4 linked regions of the Homo sapiens genome follow. The protein of the gene in region 1 interacts with the protein of each later gene in a pairwise test. Each region holds a gene or a part of one and is shown in the gene's direction. Other genes may lie near its edges.

Region 1 (7,120 bases):
CTCTGTCACCCAGGAATGCCTGGCCTCAAGTGATCCTTCTGCCTTAGCTTCCCCAAGTGTTGACGTTACAGGCGTGACCCACTGTGCCCAGCCTCACAAATTTAATTTACATATATATATTTTTTCGAGACAAGGTCTCTGTCGCCCAGACTGGAGTGCAGTGGTGCAGTCATGTCTCAGTGCAGTCTTAATCTCCCAGGTTCAAGCAATTCTCCCACCTCAGGCACCCAAGTAGCTGAGACTACAGGCACGCACCACCATGTCCGGCTGATTTTTAATTTTTTTTTTTTTTTTTTTTTGAGACGGAGTCTTGCTCTGTCACCCAGGCTGGAGTGCAGTGGTGCGATCTCTGCTCACTGCAAGCTCCGCCTCCCGGGTTCACACCATTCTCCTGCCTCAGCCTCCCAAGTAGCTGGGACTACAGGTGCCTGCCACCATGCCCGGCTAATTTTTTTTGTATTTTTAGTAGAGACGGGGTTTCACCATGTTAGCCAGGATGGTCTCAATCTCTTGACCTCATGATCTGCCTGCCTCGGCCTACCAAAGTGCTGGGATTATAGGCGTGAGCCATCATGCCTGGCCAATTTTTTTTTTTTTTTGTAGAGTTGGGGTGTTGCCCAGGTTGATCTCAAACTCCTGGGCTCAAGCAATCCTCCTGTCTTGGCCTCTCAAAGTGCTGGAATTTCAGGAATGAGCCACTTTGGCCTAAATTTTTACAGCTTATTTCCAAGATGATTTGAAATAGTTTATAACATTAAAACACTATGAAAGGATGGCTAAAGATGATAAATCATTTGGAAGCTGAAGCATTTTAGCTATTTTGAGCGCTATATCAACCTCTAAAAATCCTGGCTGCGAAGGCAAAAAGGGGAGCATGATTGGGTATAGAGTTCTTGTCTGATTACAAGGAAGTGCATTTCATCTATAGAACAGCACAGGAAACTTTGTATTTACAGTATCTTCTGCAACTATCAACCTTTCAAGTACCAGTGACAAATGAGAAGCTGAAAGAAATGGGGTGGGGGAATAAGAGGAGGAGAGAGTAGAGTATTAATATTCATGTCTTATAAAATGAGGATTTGGCCAGGTGTGGTGGCTCACACCTGTAATCCCAGAACTTTGGGAGGCTGAGGTGGGTGGATCACCTGAGGCTGGGAGTTCGAGACTAGCCTGACCAACACAGAGAAACCCCGTCTCTACTAAAAATACAAAATTAGCCGGGCATGGTGGCACATGCCTGTTATCCCAGCTACTAGAGAGGCTGAGGCAGGAGAATCGCTTGAACCTGGGAGGCGGGGGTTGTGGTGAGCCAAGATTATGCCATTGCACTCCAGCCTGGGCAACAAGAGCAAAACTCTATCTCAAAAAAAAAAACAAAAAAAAAAAACCAAATGAATTTCTCAAAAAATAGTGATTTTTTCATACTGTATATTATTTTGGTAAGTTATTAAAACTCTAAAAGAACAAAAGGGAAGTATGTAAGTTGGTTTACAACAGGACTTAACTTGGGGTCTAGATATCTATCACTGTTTTTTTGTTTGTTTGTTTTGTTTTTTTGTTTTTGAGACAGAGTCTTGCTCCATCGCCCAGGCTGGAGTGCAGTGGCACGATCTCGGCTCACTGCAAGCTCCGCCTCCTGGGTTGACGCCATTCTCCTGCCTCAGCCTCCTGAGTAGCTGGGACTACAGCCGCCCGCCACCACGCCTGGCTCATTTTTTGTATTTTTTAGTAGAGACGGGGTTTCACTGTGTTAGCCAGGATGGTCTTGATCTCCTGACTTCGTGATCTGCCCGCCTTGGCCTCCCAAAGTGCTGGGATTACAGGTGTGAGCCACTGCGCCCAGCCACATTTTTTTTGTGTGTGTTTACTTTTTTTGCTTTTATTAGATTTTTCAAAGGGTTCCATGCACAAAAAGGCCAACCACTGATTTAGAGTTTTTTATCTAAGTAGTAAATTCTAGGAGGAATTTGTTCCATAGATGAAGAGCAAGGCAGTGCTCATATGAGTGATTAGATATGAAACCACTCAAGTATATCTTATTTTAATGTTGATTTGAGCATGTTGACTACTGGTAAAGTTTTTGGTTGGTGGTTATTTAGCAAAACAAACTTAATTTTTAAGACCATTTTTGAATTCAGAGCTTCTTCCGGTAATTACCATAGTCCTGTTGATTCTTTCCTAAATTCTCGAATTTCTTTCTTCTCACTGTTCTCTCACTCCCATCACTCTACTGCAGGTTGCTGTCTTTTTAAACTGGATTACCACATCAGCCTTTTAACTGTTCTTCCTGTCTTTATCCTTGTCCCACTCCAGCTGGTCCACATAGCAGTTAAGAGTGGATCCTGTCACTCCCTTCCTTTAAACTGTTTAATTATGTGCCAACCAAATTTGCATGACTCTCCCTAATCTGGCCATGACCACCTTTCCAGCTTCCTTTCCTGCCAAATTACATCTCCAGCCATACTTGAATTTTCAGTTCCTCAATACATTGTTTTCTTGCTCCTGGGCCTTCCCATTTTATCTGAAACACTCAACCCCTAGGTATCAGGTCTTTGCCTTCCTTTAGGAAGCCTTCCCTGATGTCCTAGGTTTGCTTAGGTGTTCTTCCAGTGTGCTACTGCAACCCATTATCCAGTATTCCTGCTTGATACCCTCTGTCTAGTTCCTTGCATATCTTTTATGCTTGACTGTAAATTTGTTGAGAACAGGGACCTTGTCTGTCTTGTTCAGCATTGTATAGTCTTTGCAATGTGCTCAGCGTATAGTTGGCACCTAATATTTACTGGGTAATGGAACATAATTTCAGCCATTCAAATTTAATACGTCAATTGTTGCTTTTTCTGCTTTTTGATTTGCAGTGTTGGTAGCCTTATATGAAGAACCAGAGAAACCTAACAGTGCTTTGGAGTATCCTTTCAAGTCAGAAAAAGGCTTTATTTTGAAACTCTTATTTTTTTAGATAGATAATAACCTTTAAAATACTTCTGAATATTGAGAAAGTTACTTTTTTTTTTTTTTTTTTGAGACGGAGTCTTGTACTGTCACCTGGTGGGGAATGCAGTGGCGCAATCTTGGCTTACTGCAACCTCCGCCTCCTGGCTTCAAGCGATTCTCCTGCCTCACGTCTCCCAAGTAGCTGGGATTACAGGTGCCCACCATCACACCCAGCTAATTTTTTTTATTTTTAGTAGAGACGGGGTTTCACTATGTTCATCACGTTGGTCTCAAACTCCTGACCTCGTGATGTGCCCACCTCAGCCTCCCAAAGTGCTGGGATTACAGGCGTGAGCAACCGCACCTGGCCAAGAAAGTTAGTTTCACTTGAGTTTTTGGATGGTGATCTCTGGGTAGATATTGGTGGTAAAGTGGGTGACTCTGGTCAGGGATATTGATACTACTCTGTGCTATTTCATTAGTTTCATTCATGTCTAAGAAGTAAGTTCTTAACATTGATAATAGTTTTTTAAAGCATCACTTAGGAGCTGCTACTCCAGAAAATCCAGAAATAGAGCTGCTTCGCCTAGAACTGGCCGAAATGAAAGAGAAGTATGAAGCTATTGTAGAAGAAAATAAAAAACTGAAAGCAAAGGTAAATTTTTAAAAAGAATTCATATTCAAATAATTTTACCTGTAATAATTGTATGATGAAAACCTCACTGAAATGGACAGGAGGGGAGGGAGGTGGGTGAATATCAATTTGAATTAATTACAATGTAAGGCCAAAGTTATGCCCTGTCAAGAAAACCACAAGACGGGCCTGGCACGGTGGCTTACGCCTGTAATCCCAGCACTTTGGGAGGCCGAGGTGGGTAGATCACGAGGTCAAGAGTTCGAGACCAGCCTGGTCAACATGGTGAAACCCTGTCTCTACTAAGAATACAAAAATTAGCCGGGCATGGTGGCATGTGCCCATAATCCCAGCTACTCGGGAGGCTGAGGCAGGAGAATCGCTTGAACCCGGCAGATGGAAGTTCCAGTGAGCCAAGATCGTGCCACTGTGCTCCAGCCTGGGTGACAGAACAAGACTTCATCTAGGGGGGTTAAAAAAAAAAAAAGAAAACCGCAAGACATACTGGAAATAGGACAAGCAAAGAAGCAAAGTGTGGTCAAGAAGAGGTTCTGGCTGGGTGCGGTGGCTCACGCCTATAATCCCAGCACTTTGGGAGGCTGAGGTGGGCAGATCACCTGCGGTCAGGTGTTCCAGATCAGCCTGGCCAGCATGGAGAAACCCCGTCTCTACTGAAAATACAAAATTAGCCGGGCTTGGTGGTGCATGCCTGTAATCTCAGCTACTTGGGAGGCTGAGGCAGGAGAATTGCTTGAACCCGGGAGGTGGAAGTTGCAGTGAGCCGAGACTGTGCCACTGCACTCCAGCCTGGGCAACAAGAATGAAACTCTGTCTCAAAAAAAAAAAAAAAAAAAAAGAGGTTCTTAGGAACCTGTATTACTAAAAGGATGAGAATATTGGTTAATGTTCTTTATAAGTAAATGGTCAGTTCTGAGGTTCTTAAGCAGTTGATTTTAAGTAGGCCAATATGGGGCGACTGCTTTGTAAATGGCACTTCTTAGAATTTGTATGGTTCATAGTTTGCAAGGCCATATGTAGCGGCCCTCTGTAAATTTGTTAGGACTTAATTTTATCTAGTGCTAAAGTTTTTTCTTTCTTTTTTTGAGACAGGTTCTCTGTTACCCAGGCTTGTGTGCAGTGGTGCAGTCATGTCTCACTGCAGCCTTGACTTCCCAGGCTCAAGTAATCCCCCCACCTCTGCCTCCTGAGTAGCTGGGACTGCAGGCATTTGCCACCATGCTCGGCTAATTTTTAAACTTTTTGTAGAAATGGGGTCCCATTATGTTGCCCTGGCTGGTCTCAAACTCATGACTCAAACGTTCCTCCTGGCCTGGCCTCCCGAAGTGTTGGGATTATAGGCATGAGCCACCTCACCCAGCCAGTTTTTTCTTTTTTCAAAGTCCTGTGAGAATTTTCATGAACTTCAAATTAGTCAACTCTTAAGTCTTTCAGGTCTTACCACATTCTTAATCACATAATGTATTTTACATTACTCTAAGTATTTCTCATAATATATTTTATCTTCTCAACAACTTTGTGAGATAAGTGAAACAAGTACACAAGCCACTTTATAGGTGAGGAAACGAAAGCACAGTGAAGTCTAATAAGCTTCTCAACTCCAACAGGTAGTTGGCAGAACCCTAATGTTAGCCTAGTGTTCTTGCAAGGAACCACACTTAGCATAAAAGAAAATGCAGTTATTTTAAATTATCCAAGATTCCACAATGTGTAGTGCTAGTTAACTCTTTGGAACCTTTTAACTCAAAGACATTAGTAGTTGTTTATTGGCTGGTTAAGTTAAGACATGTCACTTAACTCTTTATCTACTTTTCAGTGGGTATTTTCAGTAAACTTTTGCTGGAGAGGAAGAAAGTTCCTTATAAGCAAATGAATCTTTGGGAAGATATAGTTTATTGCATATCAAGTATTTGAACAGTGCAGTCATGAACTGGAATGAAATTTTAGTTTCAAAGCAATTTTAAAGGTTTATATAAAAAGGGCTTTCATTAGATTTGATTGTATTAAATCTTAAATCACTGAATGATTTAAAATGGATAGTTATAGAAACTGATATTAATACAATTTACTGACAGTAACTAAGTTGAATATAACAGTTACCTTGTTTTACTATTTTTTACTCAATTTAGAATAAAATTCACCTAAATTCCTCTGTCTTTGCCCCATAGCTTGCTCAGTATGAACCACCTCAGGAGGAGAAGCGTGCTGAATAGGATTCTTCTCAGTTTGAAAGACAATGAAAAATGGTTTTGTATGACTTGAATAGTTTGTATAGTATATAATCTTTTCTGAACAGATGCTATAGAACTCTTTTAATATGTTTAATTCACCTATCACACTCTGTTAAAAACACATAGAATCATCAATAAAAACTCAATATAACTTTCTTTGGGTCTTAAAGCAGGAGAATCCAAAGTAAATCCTGAACAAAACCTAAACACAGCCATCTAACTCATTACCTTAAAAGACATTCTGTTTATTAGTCTGATTAGGAATGATGGCACTGGTTGTATTTTAGCCAAGACAGTTTAGCATGGAGCTATTCCTTGGTGCAGTTCAGGATATGAACACAGGTACAGTCATTCTTTGAAGGTGACACTGTTCTGTATATTCCCTATAGGCAGCTGGAGAGATCTGTGTGACACAAGATGCTTTTGTACGGGTTCCCATGAATCTTCTGCTCTTGTTTGTGTGACATGGAACAAATAACTTCTTTGCCACCACTTTGCCTTAGATAACTGTGTGTGTGTGTGCCAGTTTGAACTCTGACACCACATTTTCCTTCTATGCAATCATGCCTGTCTGATAATCTTGCATTGCTTTCCTCTGAGCTTTAGTGGGTCCTAGTTGCACACTGGCCTTTCTGTGCTGTTTTTCAATTTGCCTAATAATAGCAGTTACCCTGATTGTAATTTATGTAACTTTAAACAGGATCACACTGTACCCCCTGCCTGCCTTATTTGCTTACTGAGCACAGGACAGAGGCAATATACAACTCTGGGTTCACACACAAGCTGAGATGAGAAGAGGAATGAGCCATATATTGGGGAAAATCATAGTTTGTAGGTATAATTATATAGTGCTTTTCTCCCTCAAAGTATTTTTCTAGCCTTGAATTCATTTTATCTTCATTATCCCTGTGAAGTAGGTGGGACAAGTATAAGGGGAAGAGGGGTGCTGAATTTTTAGGCCAAAGACTGATATTAATACAAATCACTCACTAACTGTAGAGCCTTGGGCATTATCAGTGAACTACTCTGAGATTTACTGTCTTCATCTGTTTAATGAGTAGAATGTCCGTGATGCCTACCTCACAGGGTTGTTGTGAGGGTCAAATGAGAATGTATGTGAAAGATTTGTAAATGGTAAAGCACTATATTCTTGTTTGTTAGTCCTTTTTCCTTTCTTTGGGTAGACCTACAGTCAGATGTTTTGTTTTATGGATCACTTATTTTCCTTACTGGTAGACTGTCGTTTTATAGACATATTCCTATTTCATATATTCTCTCCCTGTTGTTAGAGAACCTATCTTTG
Region 2 (8,100 bases), on another chromosome or scaffold:
TTGGAAGTTGATCCTCCAGCCCCAGTTGAGCCTCATCTGACTGCAGCCCCAGATGACAGCTCAACAGCAATCTCAACAGATCCTGATCCAGAAACACCCATGCTGCTCCCAAATTCCTGACCCACAGAAACTGTGAGATAAGAAATGTTTGCTTTTAAGCTGCTAAGTGTCAGGTCATTTATCATGCAGCAACAGATAACTAATATACAGATAAATAAACACCATCATTTAAAATTCAGTTCAGTGCAACTAACAAAAGATGATATGGAAGCAAGTAGTGGAGGTAGGAGGGATAAAACTGGGAGGTTGGTGACCTTGTGGGTGACATTGAGTTGAGGGCAGAGTGGTGGGAAGGGGGCAGCCATCAGTGCTTTCCAACCCTAGCAGATACTACACACCCCCTTTTATAACTGCAAGGCCTTTGTTAGCTGTTCTGAAATGAAATTCATAGGTAATAAAATCTTCCCACACACAGTTTTAATAAGACTACGAAGGTGAAACAAAAGGAATGCAATGTATAATTTGCAAATTTTATTTCAATAGATAAATGCTCAGATACAATTACACTAGAAGGTGTAATGAAGCAGGCGGATGCTGGAACCTAAAAGTGGGATCCCCTGGAATTGCCACAGCCATATGTGCAGGCTGATTGGAGTGCCCTAGCAGCAAATCAGATACCATAGCTGGTGTAAATGACAGCAATGTGGCTTTGAAGTGGTAAATGATATTTGGTAAAGTTCCAGACAAAATACATTTTTCTGGCCAGGTGTGCTGGCTTACTCCTGTAATCCCAGCACTTTGGAAGGTGGAGGTAGGAGGATCGCTTGAGACCAGGAGTTTGAGACCAACCTGGGCAACACAGGGAGACCCTATCTCCACAAAAATATTTAACAATTAGTCAGGTACGGTGGCACACACCTGTAGTCCCAGCTACTCTGGAGGCTGAATTTGGAGGATCATTTGAGCCCAAGAGGTGGAGGCTGCAGTGAGCCATGATCACACCACTGCACTCCAGCCTGGGCAACAGAGTGAGACTCTGCCTCAAAAAAAAAAATTGTAAAATTAGCCAGGCATGGTGGCACACATCTGTAATCCCAGCACTTTGGGAGGCAAAGGTGGGAGGATCGCTTCAGCCAGAAGTTCCAGACCAGCAGGGACAACATAGGGAGACCCCCATCTCTACAAAAATATTTTTTCAAATTAGCTGGGCATGGTGTTGCATGCTTCGATCACACCACTGCACTCCAGCCTGGGTGATGGAGTGAAACCTTGTCTCAAAATACATATGTATATATACATATACATATACATATACATATATATTTCCCTTGAATTGCAATGATATTTGCATTTCTGGAAAATGTGGTGATATTAAATCTACACAAGGGCCGGGCATGGTGGCTCACGCCTGTAATCCCAGCACTTTGGGAGGCCAAGGCGGGCAGATCACTTGAGGTCAGGAGTTGGAGACCAGCCTGGCCAACATAGTGAAACCTCGTCTCTACTAAAAATACAAATAAAATTAGCCAGGCGTGGTGGCGGGTGCCTGTAATCCCAGCTACTCAGGAGGCTGAGGCAGGAGAATCGCTTGAACCTGGGAGGCAGAGGTTGCAGTGAGTGGAGATCACACCACTGCACTTCAGCCTAGGCGACAGTGCGAGACTCCATCTCAAAACAAACAAACAAACAAACAAAAAAACTACAGCAAAAAACATTTTATATGTAAAGCAGATTTAGATTCTAGGCTCAGATCATTATCAATAAGTTTTTCATCTCCAGGAGTGTCTGGCCATGTGGCATACATTGAATTGTTTGTTACATAGGATTGTTCAGCTCTCTGCAGGATGTTATCTAGCATTCCTGTTCCCTCTATTACGACAACAGAAATATCCCCCCAACAAAATTTCAAAATGCGTCTGGGGGTGGTACTGCCTTCATGGAGAAGCACTGATTAAGAGGGACAGAAAAATGTAAGACAAGCCCTTGATGGGAACAAAAAGGAGCCCAGAGTGGCCAGAGTCCTGAAGAAAAGCAGGAAGGAGATGAGCTCAGAGAAAATGGCAGGGCCTCTATCACACCTTGTTGGCCACAGTATGATACTGAACTTGGACTCAATTCCAAGGGCAATAGGGAGCCTCTGTTGGATTTTCGGCAGGGGAGTGACATAGTCTGGCCTTGCTGTGTGTGTGTGTTGGGGGGAGTGGGGTGGGATCAAAACATGTTACTCAGCAGACTGCACTGTACTCTAGAGAATTTCATTCATTCATTCATTCATTCAACACATAAGGATTGAGGTGTGTCTCAGTGATCTATTGCTGTGTAACAAGCAAGACCCCAGAATGTAGTGGCATAAAGTAATGATTTTTTGTTTTCTGCTATTCTGTGGCTCAGCTGGGCAGTTTTTCTGCTGGTCTCACTAGTCACTTGTGCTGCTGTATTCAGCTGGTGGGTCGGCTGGGAGAGCTGCAATGACTGGGCTCCCTATCCACGTGCTCTTTCTTCTGGGGCTGCTACCATTTTGTTGTTATTATTGTTGTTGTTGTTTGAGACAGAGTCTTGCTCTGTCTCCCAGGCTGGAGGGCAGAGGGGCAGTCACGGCTCACTACAGCCTCCACCTCCTGGGCTCAAGCAATCTTCCCACCTCAGCCCTCCAAGTAGCTGGGACTACAGGCAGGCATCACTATTCCTGGATAATTTTTTAAATTTTTTGTAGCATCAGGGTCTTGATATGTTGCCCAGGCTGGTCTCGAACTCCTGGGCTCAAGTGATCCTCCTACTTCAGCCTCCCAGTGTTGGAATTACAGGCATGAGCCACTGACCTGCCCAGGGCTGCTTCTGAGTGTCATTCAGCATTCCCAGGCAGTAAAGGAAGAAGTGAGCCAGGGCTGTTGATGCTCTGGGACTTGTGCAGCCTCTTTTCTGTCACATTCTATTGGTCAAGACCAGCCACAAGGCTAGTCTAGGTTCAGGCTGGTGGAGAAACAAACTCTACCTCTTGCTGGGAGTGACTGCGAAATCGCATTACAAGCAGTGGAACTTGCAGAATTTAAGGCCATGAAATATTCAACGTGACTGTAGACCGGGCCCTGGGGATATGGCCTGCCCCTCTGCAACCGTGCTTTAGTGAGACAACAAATAGTCAACACGTACAAAAGCTCAGAAAGTGCTGTGGAAAACATCAGCTAGGGAGAGAGGGGGCTACTTGAGACAGGTCAGGGAAGGCTTCCCAGAGACGTCTGAGCTAAGACCCGAGCACTGGAGCATGCCTGCCTGGGATGTCTGTGCCTCTGAGGTTTCCAAGGAAGACAACTGTCTTTGCATAAGCCCATGGCTGCCCTTGGGGGAAGGGGCCCAGGGGACACCACTAATGGTTGCTGTGATAGCATCATTGTGGAATGGAGTGGAAGCTGCCTTGGGGCCAGAGTATCTGTCCCCCAGCACTCATTTGCAGGCTGTGTGACACTGGCCATCTGGGTTTCTTCCCCTGACTCCCAAAGCCCAGGTCCAGTTCACTGCACTGTGAGGGTTCACAGGTTTATAACAGGATAAACTACAGAGAGAGGTCAGTGCTTCCTGGTATACTATGCACAGCTGCGACACTCAATAAACAGAAGTTCACTGAACTGCAAGGTCACTGCTGCTGTGACAGGAGGGTCATATGGATGTGTGTATCTTGCCAGTGGCTGTGGTGAAACCCTGCTTGTGGAGAATAGACATAAACACACCTTCTCTCTCTCCCTCTCTGTCTTCCTTTCACCTCCCCTCTCCCTCCACCCCTTCCATTTCCTATTCTCCCAGCATGTTCTTTCCACTCTTCCTCACCTCCTTCCCCTTCACCTCCTTCCTACACCATTCCTTTTTCCATCTCTTTCCTGTTTTCCTAACTTGTTACTCTCATCTTTTTCTTTCTTTTCTGTTCTTCCTGACAGCTCCCCTTCCTACCTCCTCTCCCTTCACCCTTTCTCCTACTCTTTCCCCTCCTCTCATTTCTACCTCTCTTTCCTTTTCACTTCCCCTCTCCCTCCTGTCTTTCTCCTTTTTCTTTTACCTCTGTGCCTCCCTCTCACCTCTTCCCACACCACCTCATCTCCTCCATAACTAACTCACCTCCTTTTTGTTTGTTTGTTTTTTGAGACAGGGTCTCCTTCTGTGGCCCAGGCTGGAGTGCAGTGGTGCCATCACAGCTCACTGCGGCCTCAACCTCCGAGGCTCAAGCGATCCTCCCACCTCAGCCTCCCCAGTAGCTGGGACCACAAGCAGCGCCACCAGGCCCGGCTGTTTTACTTTTTATTTTGTAGAGAAAGGGTCTCCCTATGTTGCCCAGGCTGGTCTCGAACTCCTGGGCTCAAGCGATGCTCCCGCCTTGGCCTCCGGAAGCGCTGGGATTAGAGGCGTGAGCCGCCGCGCCGGGCCTCCCCCCTTCCCCTCCGCCGCCGCCTTCTCATCGCCCTTCCTCCTTCCTCCTGACGCCCCTTACTCCCGATCACTTCTCATTCATTCACCAGCTTCCAGTCCTCGCTCCCTCACCTCTTTTCTTTCCTACTCGCCTTCTCCTCCTGCCCCTTTATCATCTCTCCTTGTCACCGTTCTTTTTTGCCAATCCTCTCGTTCCCCTTCCTTTCCTCATCTCCTCTCTTACCCACGTCATCTCCATTCTCGTGCTCCCCTTCACCTCCCGTTACCTTGCGCTTCTCTCCTCTCATCTCCATCACCACCTCTCCCCGCTTTCGCCTTTCTTTAGCCCCCGCGTCCCCTATACCCTTCGCCCATGCCCACTCCCCTCCCCACCTTCTCTTCTTCCACCCTCCACCCTCGCCTTCTGTCTCTCGCCCACCTGACTCCGCTCCGCCCCCAGCCTTAGGCTCCGCCCCGCTGGGGGTCACGGGGCCGACGGACGCTAGGCGGCCGTAGCGGCCTCGCCAGTCACGTGGTCACGTGACGCGCTCCAACATGGCGGCGCCGTGGGGCCGAGGTGTCGCTTCCTGACGGGGCGGCGCGGACGGACGCGGCCGGTGCCGGCCGGGACGCCGGGCCCGCAGCCTAGCTCGCCATCTCGCTCACGCCGCCCGCCCGCGGGGCCGTCAGCCCCCGCCGGGCCGGGGCCATGCAGGAGAGCCAGACCAAGAGCATGTTCGTGTCCCGGGCCCTGGAGAAGATCCTAGCCGACAAGGAGGTGAAGCGGCCCCAGCACTCCCAGCTGCGCAGGGCCTGCCAGGTGGCGCTCGGTGGGTGAGCCGCTCCCGCCCTGCCCCGCGCTGGCCTCAGCACGTCGGCCGTTGCCCTATCCTACTCGGCCTTGGCCCGGCCTCCTGGCCTCCGCTTCCCCCCGATCCCGAATTCCACCCTTCCGGCCTCCTCCTCATTATACCCCCGGAGGAAGTGTTGCCCGGGCAGCTCGGGACTGGCCCAAGGTCACCTAGCAAGTTGGTGACAACCAGAGCTTGTTCCTCAGGGTTCCAGCTCAGGGCTTTTGCCACGATTCCTTGTCGCCCTGTTTCCTGGTTCCTCCCCTCACCACCTCCAAGTCCTAGAAACAGTAGCCCTTGCCCCAAGTTTTTTCGTTACCTGAGCTCTGCTGATTGGGGTTCCCCTAGGTGAACAGAGCATGTAGGAAGAGCCGTCCAACTGGTTTAGGGAAACCCCTGATTCTTGTTTTGGAAGTGCCCGTTGGAGAATGTTTTCCTTTGGTTTGGGGATCTCCCATAGCTCTTTCCCTCAAGGAAGGATTGTAGAAGGTGTTCTGGATCTCCCAGGCATTGTAGTGAGCAAGACATCTGCTTATTCCTAGCAGTCCACTAAAATACAAGGTCTTCAGCGCGAAGATACTTGTCTGACTTATTCATTGCTGTATCCCTTGCGCTTGCAACAGTGCCTGGCGCACAGTAGGTGCTCGATAAATATTTGCTGATTGAATGGACCCTCAGATTATGGAAAGAGGGAGAATTCTAACTAATAGTTAAAGGCTTGATAATTGATAGCAAAATCACTATCCTATCTTTCAGTTTTAATCATTTAACAAATATTTATCAAGTGCCCACTGCATACCAGGTACTGAGAATTCAGTGGGGAACAAGACGGACATGGTCCTTACCCCTATGGAGCTTATACTCGAATAGAGGAGACAAAATAATTAATTAAGAAAATAGGTGAGGTATTTTGGAATACTGATAAATACTATTTTGAAAATAAAACAGCAAGATGTGATAAAGAGGGCTTGAGGACTGCTTTCCATGGTCAGGAAAGTAATCTTTTCCAAGAGGAAAAGTAATCAGGTGGTCAGGAAAGTAATCTTTTCCAAGAGGGTGACACTTGAGCTGAATACTGAAAGGCAAGAACTATCCACCATATGGAGTTTCAGAAGAGAGTTCTTGGTGGGAGAATCCATGCATTTGACCAGAGCTGTTTTCAAGCTAATTCACTGCCCCAACGTCTTTGGTTTGGAATCTGTAAAGGCCTGTTTTTCCTAACAAAATGAGCAAATGGAAAGTTTGATTTTTAGTCACATAGTTTGAGATTGTTATCACCTTTCTCCTTTCATTTGCTACAAAGTATAGAGTAGTGTTCTTTTGGCATTTAGAAATAGGCTGGTGAACTTTGCACTTCCCTGGAAAGAAGGTCCCTGGCTTTCATCAGATTTTCAGAGGGCCCTGAGACTCCCTCAGGGGCCAACTATTGATGCAGAGGTGGTAGTCTAGATAATCTGGAAACAGTTGCTAGTCCGTGAAATTCAGGATCAGTGGAAGGAATTTACTGAGATGTAGATTTTTAAAGCTTTTCTCTTCCAATAACCAAGGCTGTTGGGTATTTTATCAGCAATGTGGGATAAGCACTGCAAAGCAGTTTGTTAGGCAAGAGCCTGGTATTTATAACTCCACGTTGAAATCTGCCTGGACTCTATCTTCTCGATATTGTTGTGGAGGTTTCAGAATAGTTATTTGGCAGAAGAGTTTTTATTTTTTCTTCAGAAAACTTCTTAACATAAAATTTTCACCAAAGTGTGCATCATATTATTGGAACCTACTTATAAAATTTTCATCTGGGTCATGAAGGGCCATTAACGCTGAGAATTTAATAGATATTTTCGGATCGTATCTTTGTTCAGAAGTTCAAGTTTTCCTAACACAAGTAGTGGAATGCATGTTTTCAGTTTTTAGTAGTGAATTGTAAAAAATGGCCTAGATAGGAAGTAATTTGACTACAGGTTATATGAATCACAAATTGGGGTTGTGCCAATGGCATAATAGGAACTGTCATAAGGGAACGTATGCATATTGTTAAGTGACCATCTTTTTTAAGAGAATAATTGTGTGTCATTGCTGTTAAATAGAAATGACTGCTTTTACTTAGAGTAGAACACATAGCAGAATGCCTGGTGATATTTCTCTCTGTCTCTCAAGGCCCAGTCTTGTGTCCAGTAGTCCCATTTAAGAAGAGAAATTTGGGGCCAGGTGCGGTGGCTCACGCCTGTAATCCCAGCACTTTAGGAGGCTGAGGCAGGCAGATCACGAGGTCAGGAGATCGAAACCATCCTGGCTAACACGGTGAAACCCCGCCTCTACTAAAAATAACAAAAAAAATTAGCTGGGCGCTGTGGCGGGCACCTGTAGTCCCACCTACTCGGGAGGCTGAGGCAGGAGAATGGCGTGAACCCAGGAGGTGGAGCTTGCAGTGAGCTGAGATTGCGCCACTGCACTCCAGCCTGGGCGACAAAACAAGACTCTGTCTCAAAAAAAAAAAAAAAAAAAAAGGCTGAAACGAGCCAGTGTATAAGGAGCAGCTATGTGGTATTTTAGAGATTACCATGTATAGATTGTTGTTAATTGTGATAAGAGGAACTGTAAATGACGGCTCAAAGTTGAAATGCTTGGATGATAGAGAGCATTTACAGGAAACAGCTTCTGTGATATGATTCCACCAGCTGTAGCATATTAGGGGAGAGGATCAGGGCTGCAGGGACTGTATAGTGTAGATGTTAGCTAGGAGTGTATTCTTTGGGACCCTAGACTTCTGTGTTCAAACCTCCTGCCTTCCACTTGCTACGTTTGTGATCTTGGACAAGTTACTTCCTTATAGGATTATTGTAAAGATTAAGTTAATTGA
Region 3 (7,297 bases), on another chromosome or scaffold:
AAGTGCTGGGAGCATAGGTGTGAGCCACTGCGCCCAGCTTTATGTGGTTTTTTTTTTTTTTTTTTTTAAGGTGTACCAGTTTCTGATTTTTTGTTTTCATCTTCAAATAAAACTTAAAAATAGTACTTTATGTTTTACCAATTTAATGAATGCTTTTTTCAATTTGTTATTTGTTGAAATGTTGTTTTGGTTGTGATGTTGTATGGTTTTGAAATACTCATTTTTATGTTGTCAGTTTTTACCTTCATATTATGTTTGATATACAGGTTATATTTTAATTTTTGTTAATTTTATATTTAATCCTAACTCAAGACTCATAATTCACTAGCTTGTTAGAAAGGATAAATTATTTTTCCAGAATTTCGAAATGGCTAAAATAGTCATATTATCCTTTAATGTTAATGTTCTGTAATAGCTATCAAGATTGATTTAGAGCATTGTTATGAGAATGAAACAGAATTAGGCCTTGGTATTTTAAGTGAAAAGCTTTTTAATTTGGGCCATATTTTTGGACAGGAAACCATTTTTGGTGCCTATATGATGTATGATGTCAAGTTTTAAGAGTTTGCCATATGTCTGTTAAGATAATACAAGGCGTTTAACTAGGAAGAGTTGCCGTTTTTAGATAGTTTTTCCCCATTATCTGTAGGAACTATAAATAAAAGACAGTTAAAAAAACTTTTAGAACTTTTGCTTTTGTAAAAAACCAGAAGTCTTTCATCTGATGATGAGACATTTAAGTTGGCATTAGAAAATTTTGTAATACTTTATGTAACCAATTACAGATTTTTTTGGACACTGAGATTCTGCTTCTGTAGGTACTGTTTACCGACAGTAAAATATAAATTCTTAGATCTAGATATCAAAAATTATTTAAGTTGAGATTACTATTTTTGCACAGCAAATTCAACTTTGCAAAAATGAATTTGAAAGGAAAAACTTTAAGAAATTTCTTGTCAATTTGTAGATGTCAGATTCTCATTACAAAATTATTATAATATTCTAATTTTTAAAAATTAGGTTTATTTCACTCCTTATTGTCCCTCAGGGGGCGATAATGAGGGTAAAATGAGATAAATATAGATATACTTTCAAAAATGTTATACACACTCAAATTATAAATGAGTTGAGCACCGGGCACAGTGGCTCACACCTGTAATCCCAGCACTTTGGGAGGCCGAGGCGGGTGGATCACCTGAGGTCAGGAGTTCGAGACTAGCCTGACCAACATGGAGAAACCCCATCTCTACTAAAAATACAAAATTAGCCGGGTGTGGTGGTGCATGCCTGTAATCCCAGCTACTTGGGAGCAGAGGCAGGACAATCGCTTGAACCTGGGAGGCCGAGGTTGCAGTGAGCTAAGATCGCGCCATTGCACTCCAGCCTGGTCAACAAGAGCGAAACTCCATCTCAAAAAAAAAAAAAAAAAAAGCTGAACGTGGAGAAAGCCCAGCTATGAAAACCTAAATTTGCAAAACAAAATTAAGATTGTTTTTACATGAAGATTCATTTTATGAGAATATTCACTTCAGAGTTTCTGTGATGTGATTTTTTCATGGGTCTTAAATTATATATCTATTCCAGAAGATACAGTTTATGTACAACTTTTCAGGAGAACATATGTGAAGACAGCATACTTAAGATATAGCTGTTGTTCCACATACATACATTATAGGTCCTCGATAAATTATTAAAAGGTTGATTTTTTTAGAGCCCCTATTATGATAGGCATAATATCTTATATTACAGCAATAGACTTTTGCTTATTAGTGCAATTTGATAAACCATTGATAGTAGCTAAAATTTTTTCTTCCCTCTCTCTTCCAGTCTATATTATTTATTTTGTCAATCAGAGGATCCCAAAAGTTTTTGATTCACAAGTCTGACTTTTCATGAAAGTTGCACTTTGGCCAGAGGAATACCTCCAGTTCTATGTTCTATTTATTAAGCAGGCAGGGCCAAACAACTTAATGGATATTTGTCTTCACAGCCTACTATGTATTTCAAAGACAATAGTATGCATAAAGTAAAAGAAAAATAATGTTTTTATTTTATTCTTTACCGCAATTACTTACCACTGGGATGCGTGTGCCTATTAGAAACTGCACACAGCTTCTTAGATCTTGGAATTGAATACTGTCCCCCTCATTCCTGTACTTCATTGATTTTCATTCAGTACTTGGTTTTTTATCATAGCAACTACCAAAACCCAGCTTTGCGGAGATAATTATGTCATTGAAGGGAATGTAGTGTGATTTATTTGAAACCATGAGCAATCTTTTGAGGTATCCAACAGATGTATCTCCCTCTGAATTTTGCCTCAGAATTTTTTCAGGGCACCCTCATGAGTTTGCTACAGCATTCTGGGGTACTTTGATGCAGTTTTTGGGAATTGTGGCCATGTTGCCATAAGTATTTATTGAACACCTACTATGTGCCCTGCAATATGGACGTGATCTTTATCAAGAAAGACCTGGTCATTACTGTCTTCAAGCTTACAGTCTATAGGAGATACTGATATTAAACAAGTAAATAGAAATATGCTGAGTTTTGTGAAAGAAAATCACATTACAGGGGTACCTAATCCAGTTAGGGGGAGATACTATAAATGTGATTTTCTGGGTTCATAATGCATATGTTTCATAAATGTTAATATGTTGGTTGTTTCAGTCATTCCTTCTTAAAGTCACTTTTATAGAATACATTTAAATCTGAAAATTCTTATCTGTTAAATTGAAATTTATCTCATTAGGTTGATTAACTCACTGCTTGATTATTTGGTGTAAAGAGTAGTGAGAAATAGTTCATATGTAGTTTTCAAACAGTAGAGATTTTCACTTTTGTGAGTAATTAGAAAAATAAAACCGTATGAGACTTAGATTGTTTTTATTGTGTTGATTAGAGTATCAGTTACATTTAAATCTACGAACAGTTAGGCCTCTCAGTACTAGAACGTCTCTGAAAAATATAACTGATGAACAGAAGTATAAATTACGCTTTTGGAGGGGGATTAAAAAAGCGTAAGTTATATTCTGTAAAAATGTTAAAGAAATTATCACCTAGAGGAACTCTAAATCTTTGCATATTTCTTTTGTAGCAGCTGTGTTGAGAACAAAACACATCAATGTGAATTGCAGTACTGATAACTAGAAGGGCAAGTTTAAGTCACTTACCCAAGATATTTTAGTCCTGAGGATTCAGAGATGGAACTCAAAAGGAGTTGAACTCCATAAGAGCCTGGGTCCTAATACCTGCTCTATAGCTCTGGGATGTTTAAAAAGTGATCACACATATGAATTCTAAACAATATTTTAAACAGAAGTTTTCTCCTAATCACAGGTGTTCTTTAAAGAAATTTTCTTATACATTTTGGAAACTTCTACCAGCTCATTTGATCACAAATGGATGGTTATTCAGACACTGACGAGGATTTGTGCAGGTATTTTAAATTATCCTTTTTATTATCTCTTTCTTATTATTAGATATTTAAAAGGCCAAATGTACTCATATCCTAGATGTACTTTGTTGAAATTAATGTTATATTGTTACAGATGCTCAGAGTGTAGTGGATATTTATGTAAACTATGACTGTGACTTAAATGCAGCCAATATATTTGAAAGACTAGTAAATGATCTATCAAAAATTGCTCAAGGAAGGGGCAGTCAAGAACTTGGTATGAGTAATGTTCAGGTAAGAACTATAAAAACATTTTCAAATTTAAACTTTACCAGGAAAGAGTCATGTGTTTTCCTTAAAAGACCTTTAAAAAAAATTTTGTTTTTGAATTACTTTGTAGGAATTGAGCCTGAGGAAAAAAGGTTTAGAATGCTTAGTGTCGATTTTGAAGTGTATGGTTGAATGGAGTAAGGATCAGTATGTGAATCCCAACTCCCAGACAACTCTTGGTAAGGTGATATTTTGAGCTGTAATTCTTTGTCATTTTAAGTGAATAATACTTTGGAGGATAGTTGCAGCTGCTGTTAAACCAATTTCATGACATATTTATTCATTTAACTGATGAGGAAACATTCTCTGTGAGTTAAATGTCTAGCTTTAAAATTGTGAGATTTTTAACTTAGTTATCCAAACTATTTTTTTCTAAATCTTCTTAGAAATATTTTGATTATGTAAAATGAAGCATATTTATGCAACTTTCTTGTATTATAATTATAGAGGAAACATATAAAAGGCAGTATGTTTTAAGAAGGTTGAATTGTTCATCTGTGTTTGATGTTTACCCTCACTCAGAGAAAAACTCATAGCTGCAGGGCTACACTGGTATTATCGAAAACAATTCCTCATGAGGAGTGAGCTGAGAGCAGAAATCCAGTGGATACTCAGCACTGCAACTGCAAAAAGAACTCCTCCTAATGGTGCAGACTATACACGTACAAATTACAGTGTGTTTTAATATCAAAGTATGTTGTTTACTATGTTACCTAATAGTTATTTTGTATTAAATAGATATCTAAGCAACATTGAAACGCCTTGCCTTATTCAAGAATTTGTTTGCCCTTACACTTTTTTTTTTCTTTGATAGAATAATGTACTCTATCAATTTTTCTTCTTTCAGGTCAGGAAAAACCCTCAGAGCAAGAGATGAGTGAAATCAAACACCCTGAGACAATAAACAGATACGGAAGTTTAAATTCCCTGGAGTCAACATCATCATCAGGAATAGGCAGCTACAGTACACAGATGTCTGGCACTGATAATCCAGAACAATTTGAGGTCCTAAAGCAACAAAAAGAAATAATAGAACAAGGGATAGATTTGTAAGTGTCATAGCTTAAGGAGAAATGTTATTGAATATCTCTCTGCCAGTATAGTGCCACCCCTGCCGTGGGTTTATCACCTTATAATGAGTAAAATGGAGGATAGTTCTCATGGATCTAATTCACGAGGCTCCTATTCAGCCCCCCTTGTTCATTGCAGTCTAGCCCAACTAGATTCCTGTAATGCCCAACCACTCTTGTCATATAAATTAATTTGTCACCATATTATAAGTGCTGTTGATGGGTATCATCTGTGCAATTTTGCACTGTTTAGCTCATGACATCCCCCCATTATATTTTCTAATCATGTGACAACTCAAAACATTTAAAATATGAAACTTCTAATAGCTATCAGTACTCCTTTATAGGTCTTACATTTTTTCCAGCTGGCTTACAAATGTACTATTCTTGTTATTGATTTCATTTTTATATGTTGATGAGGTGATCACCTCTCTTCCAGCCTGGCTAGTGTACCGGATCCTAATCTTGTGAAGTCAGTTTTCCCACTAAGCTTTGTGATACCTGCCTGCTCCTGGACTATTTCCTTTGTGAATGTCACCATGCTGCCTTCCTTTCTCTTGTTGCCCATCTCTTTTTTTCAAAGAGATGCCATAAGGAAAAATGAAATTGTTTGCCGTCTCCATGAATCTAACTATTATAAACTTAAAAATTCCCCTGTGTGCTTACTTGGTTTGCTACTTCTGTAAAGCATTTCTTCCTGATACTTAAGCAGTGCCTTTTAGTGAATGTTCAGGTGTCTTTTTTCTCCAGTGTTAATATGAAAAACAGTTCAACAAAAATGTACACATATTCTATTTTAAAATTACAAAATCTTACCAAATTGCCTCAGGAAATAGCTGTCACTACTGCATTAATTCTAATTGTTCAGTCAATATTTATTAAAGTCTCATCTTTCCAGATATTATGCAAGATCCTGGGGAAACTAGATACATGGAAAAGCCCTTCCTTCTGAGAGGCTCTTGGTCTAGTGTGTGTAAACAAATATGCATATTGAAATTCTGCTGGTCACCCAGTAAACACATATTTGGTACTTGGGACTATTGCCAAGCACCATGAAGGCATTGGTCCTTGTATTCAAGATTGCATTCTAAACATGAGCAATTTTTAAAAATAGTACTGTGTAAATGTTTATAAAAGAGTGTCGTACAGAGTAAGTACTGCCAAGGTACTTATTTTGAAGTACTTGAGAAATGAGAAGGAGTAGTCAGAGGGCTTCGAAGTGGAAGTCTCCCAGTCCTTCTCTCAGCAGCTAGACTTGCTTTCTACTTAATACAGCCATTGATGAGAATGCTTTCATGGAACTGTATTCCTAGTATACTTGTCTACAACTGTTTCATGACACCAGTCTATCCTGTTTCTCTCCTACCTTTTTGACTATGCCGTCTCAGTCTTGTGGGCTGTTTTTTCTTTCTTCCTGCGTGCATCTTAGCATTGCCAGCGTTCTGTTCCTCAGCCCTTTTCCAACATCAGCCCCTTAGTTCTCCTACCCAAAACAAAAGACAAATAGAGAAGCCTGTTATTTTTGTATTTCTTATTTATGGTAGTAACCCCAGCATGCTACTAAATTTATAAGCTAAAATCCTGGGAGTTAGCTTAGATTTTCCCCTCAAAGGATTAGATTCTCGAATCTAATCTGTCACTAAGACTTGTTGATTATACTTCCTAATATCCCTGCAATCTGTACTCTTTTCTCGATCTCCCACCACTATTCTTGCAAATCAAATCATGATTATTTATTTCCTCAACTAGTATAATCTTTCAATTGGCTTACCTTTTTCTTTGGTTTTGTTCATTCTTCAGTCTTTTCCCATGCTTAACTAGAGTAACCTTTCTTGAATGAAAGTCTATTTTTTCCCTCTCTTAGAGAATAAAACCAAAGCTGCTTTGAAGGTATGATAATACCTTCATGATTTGGATCTGCTGGACTCTAAGCTTCATTTCCTGCCACTTTTCTGTCTCACCTCACTTTCCAACAATGCAGAACTATTTATTATATAATACTGTCTTGTGCTTTTGTGTTTTAGTATGGCTTCTTCCTCTCTTGCATGTTTTTTCTTATTGTTTATAAAAGATATAATTGTTCTTCAAAATAGTTCCAGAGTCACCTTTCCCAGGAAATATATTATGACCATCTAAGTTAGTTACTTCTACTGTGTTATTTTCTTACCTTGTGAATACATCTATTTGTCACAGTTTTAGTATTATAATTCTTTAAAATTGTGTTTCTTCCATTACAGTGAGAGCTTCTAGGGGTAGGGGGATTATGTTTAGCTTAGTGAAAAGTGTTTCATTTTATGAATGTTAAGTGGTTATGGTTGGATGAGAACTTGACAAGGGAACCTTTAGGAAGAGCATCCCAGACTAAGAGAATGGCATGTGCAGCAGCAGAGGAAAGGGAGGACATCTGAGCACTTGTTCAGCATGGCAGGCTAGAGTGGAGGGGGAATAACAGGAGGTAAGATTAGAGCATTGGGTTGGATCTAAATTACAGAAGGCCTTA
Region 4 (7,336 bases), on another chromosome or scaffold:
TGAAGCAGAGAATTGCTTGAACCTTGGAGGTGGAGGTTGCAGTGAGCTGAGATCATGCCACTGCATTTCAGCCTGAGCAACAGAGCAAGACTCCATCTCAAAAAAAAAAAAAAAAAAAAAAAGAAATAGACCTTAATGAATGGAGGAATGTTCTGTGTTCTTAAATAGGCAATTTAATAGTGAAACAAAACAAAAACCAGTTCTCTCCAAATTAATATAGACAGCACATTTCTAGTCAAAAATATCAGTCGGGGAGTAGGACTGAATGAAATGAAATTATTTTAAAGTTTTACATTGTAAAATTCAGTCTAACAATAGCTGAGAGATTGATTTCAGAAATACTAAAACTTACTACAAAGCTGCTGCAATTAAAAAACAAAAAAAGTGATAATTAGCACAGTAATGAAACAGTGGAACCAGAATAGAGAGTCTAGCAAAAGATCTCAGTATATTTCAGACTTAGTAATTTGTTAAAGTTAGTACAGATATTTTATCTGAAACCTTAGGGCCAGAAGCCTCAGAATTAATTTTTCAGCTTCAGAAAACCAATATGCAAGGCTGGGGGCAGTGGCTCACACCTGCAATCCCAGCACTTTGGGAGGCTTAGGTGGGATTGCTTGAGCCCAGGAGTTCCTGACCATAGTGAGATCTCGTCTCTACAAAAAATAAAAAATTAGCCAAGCATGGTGGTGAGTGCCTATAGTCCCAGCTACTCAAGAGGCTAGCATGGGAAGATCACTTGAGCCCAGGAGTTTGAGGCTGCAGTGAGCCGTGATCACACAATGGCAGTGCAGCCTGGGCAACAGAGTGAGACTCCTATCTCTAAAATAAAATAAAAAGAAAGACAATATGGTATTAGCACTAACCTCTCCAACAGGATCTGGGGAAAGCGCCTTGTAGTTGAGTCACAAATAATTCTTCACATGACTTACATATAAATGAAAAATGTAATGTCAGTTCACATTTAGCCACCAAATGAATTTTGGGGGAAGACTTGTTTTCTAGAGCCTTTTGGATTTCCAGTTTATAGATAAGGGATGGTAGACCTATATGCCAATTTGGTAGGGAAATAAATGGTGTGTTTTGTACATTTCTGGAAAAGAAAATTTTGGACCCTCTACCTCATAACATATACAGATTGAGTTCATCCGTCATCTGAAAATCCGAAATGCTCCGAAATCCAAAACCTTTTTCTTTAAGAAAAAAGAATTGAGTCTTGCCATGTTGTGCAGGATGGAGTGCAGTGGCTGGTCGCAAGTGAAATCATTGCACACTATAGCCTTGAACTCCTGAACTTGAGCAATCCTCCTGCATCAGCCTCATGAGAGTAGCTGAGACTACAGGCACGAGACACTGTGCCCAGTAAAATCTGACTTTTTCAGCACAGACATGACAAAGTAAATGCTCATTGAAGCATTTCAGATTTTGGGTTTTTGGAGTAGGGATGCTCAACTGGTAAGTATAATGCAAATCAAAATCTGAAAGACTTCTGGTCATAAGCACTTTGAATAAGGGATACTCAATCTGTATCAAATTCTAGAAAATTTGGCTGGGCGTGGTGGCTCACGCCTGTAATCACAGCACTTTGGGAAGCCGAGATGGGTGGAGGTCCTGAGCTCAGGAGCTCAAGACCAGTCTGGGCAACATAGGAAAACCCTGTATCTACTAAAAATACAAAAAAGTAGCTGGGTGTGGTGGTGCGTGCCCGTAGTCCTAGCTACTCAGGAGGCTGAGGCATGAGAATTGCCTAAACCTGGGAGGCGGAGGTTGCAGTGAACTGAGAGCCCCTGCACTCCAGCCTGGGCGACAGAGCGAGACTGTCTTAAAAAAAAAAAAAAAAAATTTAAATGTGAAAAATGAAAACCAAGATCAGAAAATAGTTAGAAAATTATAAACTGTGGGCGGGTGTTCCAGTGTGCTTACCAGAGCACTCACTCGCCGGTGGGCAGGGAAATGCCGTGGGAGGCAGCAGCACAGATTCTTCTGTCTTTTATCCACAGCAAAAATACCCAACAGTGACAACATCCAGTGCTGATGGGCAGGCAGGAGGACCAGGTCATTGTTTTAACACAGGTGGAAGAAGCATGACTTGCAAATGTTCTGCAGTTAATTGGGCACTATCACTTTGAAACCAAACCTGGTTAGAATGAAAAGCACCAGCATGGAAGTGTACAAGTTTATTCTAGTGTTGCTGGGTTATTGTGGAGAAGATCTGGAAGCAACATAAATGTGCCTCACTTGGGAGAATTTATGGTGTGGTTATCTGGGCATCTAGAACCAGGAGGATAAACTGTTGGCAAGTGAGAGTCACTGGGGGAACGGTCTATAGTAGTATCCTAATTGTGTATCTTTAGTTTATTGTGAGCATGTATGATGTCTGTTAATATTTTCCTCCAGTAGTAGAGAAAACGTGCTAAGGAAAAAAAAAAATGAAGATGGAGAGAGTAGAAACAGCAAGTGAGAAGGCTTTCTGAAACATGTAAATGGAGTGGGAAGGACTCAATGGGCTCTCCCACCCCACCAAAAATATCCTTCTTTTACCTTATGGTTTTTATAATGATCAAAGTGAGATTTGCCTGTACTCCCACCATGAGATGGCCCAGCATATTGATGGAAATCCTTCCAGACAAAATGGCTCTGGCATGCTCTGCAGACAGTACTATATTATACACCTTTCTTATGCCAGTGCAGAGATGAGCCCGATTTGAAGGGCTGCATGATGTTCTTTTGAATGTACGATTTATTTAACCTCTTCTGCACTGAGGAACGTTTAGGTGTTTTCCCATTTTTCACCACTACAATCAGTGTGCACGCATGTTTCCAGTTCTTAAATTTAGGATACGTTCTGGGAAGGGATTAATGAGACAGATTTTTACTTTTCATACATTGTGTCAAACTGCTTTCCAAAAAATACGGAAACAGTTGATCCTCCCACCAGCAGAGAAGACTCTCTTCACCCTTGCATGACTGGGAATAATTCTTCATTCTTGGAATTCTGTGGGTTAAAAAAGACGTTTCATTAAATATCTGTTCCTGTTTTTATATCTTCCCCGTTGGCCCCAAAGTGCTCCTTGCCTATTAGCCTAGTTGGCACCTTGTTACAGGTTGCACCCACCTTTGGCTCTTAGTTTCTTAATTGTTCACTGCTTATAGCTTTTTTGTAAGCAAATCAGATTTCTGTAATACAGCCGTAAAGTTAGAGATATATAGATCTGTATTTTTATTTACCTACAGTAAGTGTGGTGTGGAAGGAGAGGGAATTTGAACAAAGATCAGATAGGTTGTGGTTCCATGCTTGTGGAGTGGCCCTCCGTTGGTGGGGCTGGAAGTGCGTGGGTGCAGGGGCGGGGTGGGGTCCCTCTAAGCTGGCAGGGTCGGGGCAGCAACTTGTAGGGCACTCAGAGCAGCCTCTCCAGCTCCTTCTGCCCTGCCCGCAGCTCATGATGGAGCAGTCCAAGAAGTCCTCCCTCATGGTGGCCCGCAGTATTCTCAACAACAAGCTCATCAGCAAGAAGCTGGAGCGCTACCTGAAGGTGAGGCACTGGTCCGGGCCTGCCCTGTCCCCAGCTTAGTCCCCGCCTGTGCTCCCTCCCTTCAGTGTCCGCGCCCCTCCCCACAGGGCGAGAACCCTTTCACCGACAGCCCCGAGGAGGAGAAGGAGCAGGAGGAGGCTGAGGGCGGTGCCCTGGACGAGGGGGCGCAGGGCGAAGCGGCAGGGATCTCGGAGGGCGCAGAGGGCGTGCCGGCGCAGCCTCCCGTGCCCCCAGAGCCAGCCCCCGGGGCCGTGTCGCCGCCACCGCCGCCGCCCCCAGAGGAGGAGGAGGAGGGCGCCGTGCCCTTGCTGGGAGGGGCGCTGCAACGCCAGATCCGCGGCATCCCGGGCCTCGACGTGGAGGACGACGAGGAGGGCGGCGGGGGCGCCCCGTGACCCGAGCTCGGGGCGGGCGGAGCCCGCGTGGCCGAAGCTGGAAACCAAACCTAATAAAGTTTTCCCATCCCACCTCCGGGTTTCTCTGTTACTGTGCCGCGCGGGCGGGGCGGGGTGGGCAGAGGGGCGGGGTGCGCATGCGCGCGGGCCGGGCCGTCGGGCACCGCGGTGGGACCACAACTCCCATTAGGCCACGGAGCTGGATCGTAGCAGCCCGAAAGGCCAGCTGGGACGGCGAGGGCGGGCCCTCGTGAAGACCAGCCAATGGGGGCGCGCGGAAGTAGTGACGTGTGCGCCTGGTCTTCCAGTAGTCGATGGCGGAGGTGCGCTGAACGCATGCGTGCTGTGGTCGCCTAGTAAACGGGGCTGCTGGTGGGCCGCGTCGAAGACATGGACCAGGGCTACGGAGGTTTGTGTTGGCTGCTGGGTGCGGAGCGGGGAGGGAAGGCTCTGTGCGGGCGACGCAGCCGCTGCGCAGACTGCCGCCGGCCGGGCCTTCGTCCCGAGCGTGGTTGCCCCAGCTGGGCCCTCCGGAGAGGCGGCCAGGGCGCGCGCGCGCCGCTCATTGGGCTTTGGCGCCGTCGCTCCCGGGGCTCTGCGTGCGGATTGGCCGCCAGGCCCCGAGGAGGCGGGCGGGACTCGGGGTTGGGGCAGACGCCGCGGTGGGCTTCGTGGGGGCGTCTTAGACAGTGTGGGCCGTTTTTGCCCCTCACCTTCGGCGGAGTCCTTCCGGCCCCCAGCGACCCCGGGGTTTGCACTCCCGGCTTCCTCTTCCGAAGACGCCACAAAATGGCGGCGCTAGGGGGGCGGAGCTACAGCGTGGGGTTGTGAGGTCGGACCCGGGGAGCTGGGTCTGGGGCCGCGGGCGGACCGCGGGGGCCGCCTCTCTCCCGACCTGCCCTAGGCCCGCGGGGCCGTGTAGGGTCTCCGCTGGGCTCACGTGGCCCAGGGCGCCTGTCCCGGAAGCCGTCGGGCTGCGCGGGGTCGGGCCTTTAGTCCCCGGTGCAGCGCGGTGGGGCCGAGTGCTGCCGGCGCGAGAGTCAGCCTCGCCGGGCTCCAGCTCTGTACCCGGCGCGTGCTGGCTTGGGACAGGATGGTGAGGGGCAGATGCTGAGTGTTCGTATAAAGCTGGAAACCTGATGTGCCCTGGGGCTGGTGACATTGGCAGTTCTCCTTTAGGCAGTCTGTTGTGGTGGCCTGGAGGGGCCGAGGGGCTGTGCAGGAGGGAACGTGTCCTTTCCCCACTAGGATTTAGCGCTTGGCCTGCAGTAGGGCCGATCTTCTCGAGCTGCCTGCTCCCTGCTTCTGGAATCAGAGCCTTTTGGGAGCAAAGTTTGCCCACAGGGGATAGTTGGGACATGCTGGGTGGAGCTCGACTGGTTGTAGAGAAGCTAGTGGTCTGATCCTGGCTGCAGGAGCTCGAGAAGTTGTCGATCTTGAGAAGTGGCAGGGCAAAAGTATCCCAGCACCAGAAATTGCAGAGAGAGGTTTCGGTCCTGAGGCGGCAGCGTGCGCGGTGTGCTTTGGTGTCTTCCGGGTCCTAGCGAAGGCTCAGCCTGGCTCTCCTGGTCTTCCGCAGCCTGGGTAGATTTCACCATTCTTTCCCTTCTTTCCCATCAGATCTTTTCTGCAGGTATTGTATTCCTTCTTTTCATTCTTAGTTTGGAGAGGTTTTTTTTACCCCCTCTTCCTACCTGCCGAAAACCTTTCAGACACACTGGAGATAGTTAAGCTTCCCTGATTTCTTGTGTTTCCGGGAGCGTTTTAAGGTTAATAGTGCGTGCCACTTACACTAGAGCTTCACAGAGAAGCAGTCTCTCGAGGTTGGTTACTTGCTGTTGGAATCTGCAGTCTGCCTTTCTGCTGCACGGATGCGAATTTAGAAGGTTTTGCGGTATGACGGAGGGGAAGGCGTAGCATAGCAGAGGGCAAAACTCAGCAGTATGACTGGGTCAAGTCTCGTAACCCATGAGCCTAGCTCCCTTGTCTCTGAATGGCATTCCGGACAACAGGGTTTGCTGGGTGCTTGCGGTGTATCGGCACGCACTAGGCACTTAGCCGGGGGCGGGGGAGTTGTTCTGGTGAGGGAGACATGGATATGTTCCTGCCTCATCAAAGTGAAGTCATTTAACAGGCATGGTGGCCACCCGCGCGCAGCTCAGTGCTGGGCCCCAGGGACACAGAAATAAAGAGAACACAGTTCCCATTCTCCTTCCTGGAGGGACCAGACAGATGCCATAGTGGGCGGGGGGTGTGGAGGGGTGAAGAGTGCTGTCTGATGCCTTAGGGCCAGGCGAAGGCTCTGGGACTTAAAGGTCCAGGGGATCCGTGGAGGCCTTAAAAGTGGCAGGAAGGGCCTGGCGCGGTGACTCACGCCTGTAATCCCAGCACTTTGGGAGGCCGAGGCTGGCGGATCACGAGGTCAGGAGATCGAGACCATCCTGGCTAACATGGTGAAACCCCGTCTCTACTAAAAACACAAAAAATTAGGCGGGCGTGGTGGCAGGCGCCTGTAGTCCCAGCTACTCGGGAGGCTGAGGCAGGAGAATGGCGTGAACCCAGGAGGCGGAGCTTGCAGTGAGCCGAGATCGCGGCACTGCGCTCTAACCTGGGCAACAGAGCAAGACCCCGCCTCAAAAAAACAAAAAGTGGCAGGAAGTGCAGCTTAGAAAGATGCAATTTATGTCACTAAATTCCCATGCTTGTTTTCAGTTACGAAGTACTTGTGATGGCACTCTGAACTGGTTTCCTAGCTGTGTGGTGGGTGGGGGAACGTGTCCTCATGCTGAGTGGATTGTCTTGTGTTAGCCTCAGTTGTGGATGAAATCTTGGAGAGGTGAGGTCCTTGGCCAAGGTCCCTCTGCAGGGCGGAGCTGACTTCCAAGCCCACTTCCCACCCTTCTTTTTCTGCTTTGATCTCAGCCAGGTGGAATGCGATGACGCCATTAGCCAGTTGTGTGATGGCTTTTTTTTGGTGGGGTGGGGGGGAGTCTTCCTTCTTCTAAGGCTGGCACTGAACTGTAAGGAGATCCCTTTAGGAGTACCCCCAAAAGGACCCGTTCTCTGGTGTGACAAATAGAATTTTAACTCACGGGGTCTTCTTGCAGGCTACGGGGCGTGGAGTGCTGGACCTGCCAACACCCAGGGTAAGTGGGCTCTGCTTTGCGGGTGAGGCGTGGGCTTCCCCTAACTCAAGGCCCTAGCATGGCAGAGCTGAACTTGGGTCAAGGGAGAGTAGTAGCCCAGGGGTCAGCAAACTTTGTGTAAAAGATCAGATAGTGAATATCTTTGTGGCTTTATGGGCTCCACAGTCTCTGTAGCAGGAAAGCAGTCATAAATGTGTGAAAGAGTGGATGGGACAATGCCAGTAGTTACTTACAGACAATACAATTTGAAGTTCCTAATTTT

The links.
Region 2: the proteins of MYCBP (region 1) and ARFGEF2 interact in binary tests that used the Homo sapiens proteins (3 or more experiments, as listed by UniProt).
Region 3: the proteins of MYCBP (region 1) and ARFGEF1 interact in binary tests that used the Homo sapiens proteins (3 or more experiments, as listed by UniProt).
Region 4: the proteins of MYCBP (region 1) and AKAP8 interact in binary tests that used the Homo sapiens proteins (3 or more experiments, as listed by UniProt).

Annotation. Positions count from the first base shown.
Region 1 is NC_000001.11:38,863,349-38,870,468, reverse strand, and holds part of MYCBP (C-Myc-binding protein), read left to right. Parts: intron 1-2,858; coding exon 2,859-2,907; intron 2,908-3,459; coding exon 3,460-3,589; intron 3,590-5,754; coding exon 5,755-5,799; 3' UTR 5,800-7,120. UniProt on the Homo sapiens protein: May control the transcriptional activity of MYC. Stimulates the activation of E box-dependent transcription by MYC.
Region 2 is NC_000020.11:48,916,786-48,924,885, forward strand, and holds the start of ARFGEF2 (brefeldin A-inhibited guanine nucleotide-exchange protein 2), read left to right. Parts: upstream 1-4,925; 5' UTR 4,926-5,104; coding exon 5,105-5,225; intron 5,226-8,100. UniProt on the Homo sapiens protein: Promotes guanine-nucleotide exchange on ARF1 and ARF3 and to a lower extent on ARF5 and ARF6. Promotes the activation of ARF1/ARF5/ARF6 through replacement of GDP with GTP. Involved in the regulation of Golgi vesicular transport.
Region 3 is NC_000008.11:67,263,485-67,270,781, reverse strand, and holds part of ARFGEF1 (brefeldin A-inhibited guanine nucleotide-exchange protein 1), read left to right. Parts: intron 1-3,339; coding exon 3,340-3,439; intron 3,440-3,551; coding exon 3,552-3,691; intron 3,692-3,797; coding exon 3,798-3,906; intron 3,907-4,574; coding exon 4,575-4,776; intron 4,777-7,297. UniProt on the Homo sapiens protein: Promotes guanine-nucleotide exchange on ARF1 and ARF3. Promotes the activation of ARF1/ARF3 through replacement of GDP with GTP. Involved in vesicular trafficking.
Region 4 is NC_000019.10:15,376,714-15,384,049, reverse strand, and holds the start of AKAP8 (A-kinase anchor protein 8), read left to right. Parts: upstream 1-4,262; 5' UTR 4,263-4,318; coding exon 4,319-4,337; intron 4,338-7,035; coding exon 7,036-7,074; intron 7,075-7,336. Other genes in the region: AKAP8L (A-kinase anchor protein 8-like), read left to right, coding at 3,438-3,533, 3,620-3,928. UniProt on the Homo sapiens protein: Anchoring protein that mediates the subcellular compartmentation of cAMP-dependent protein kinase (PKA type II).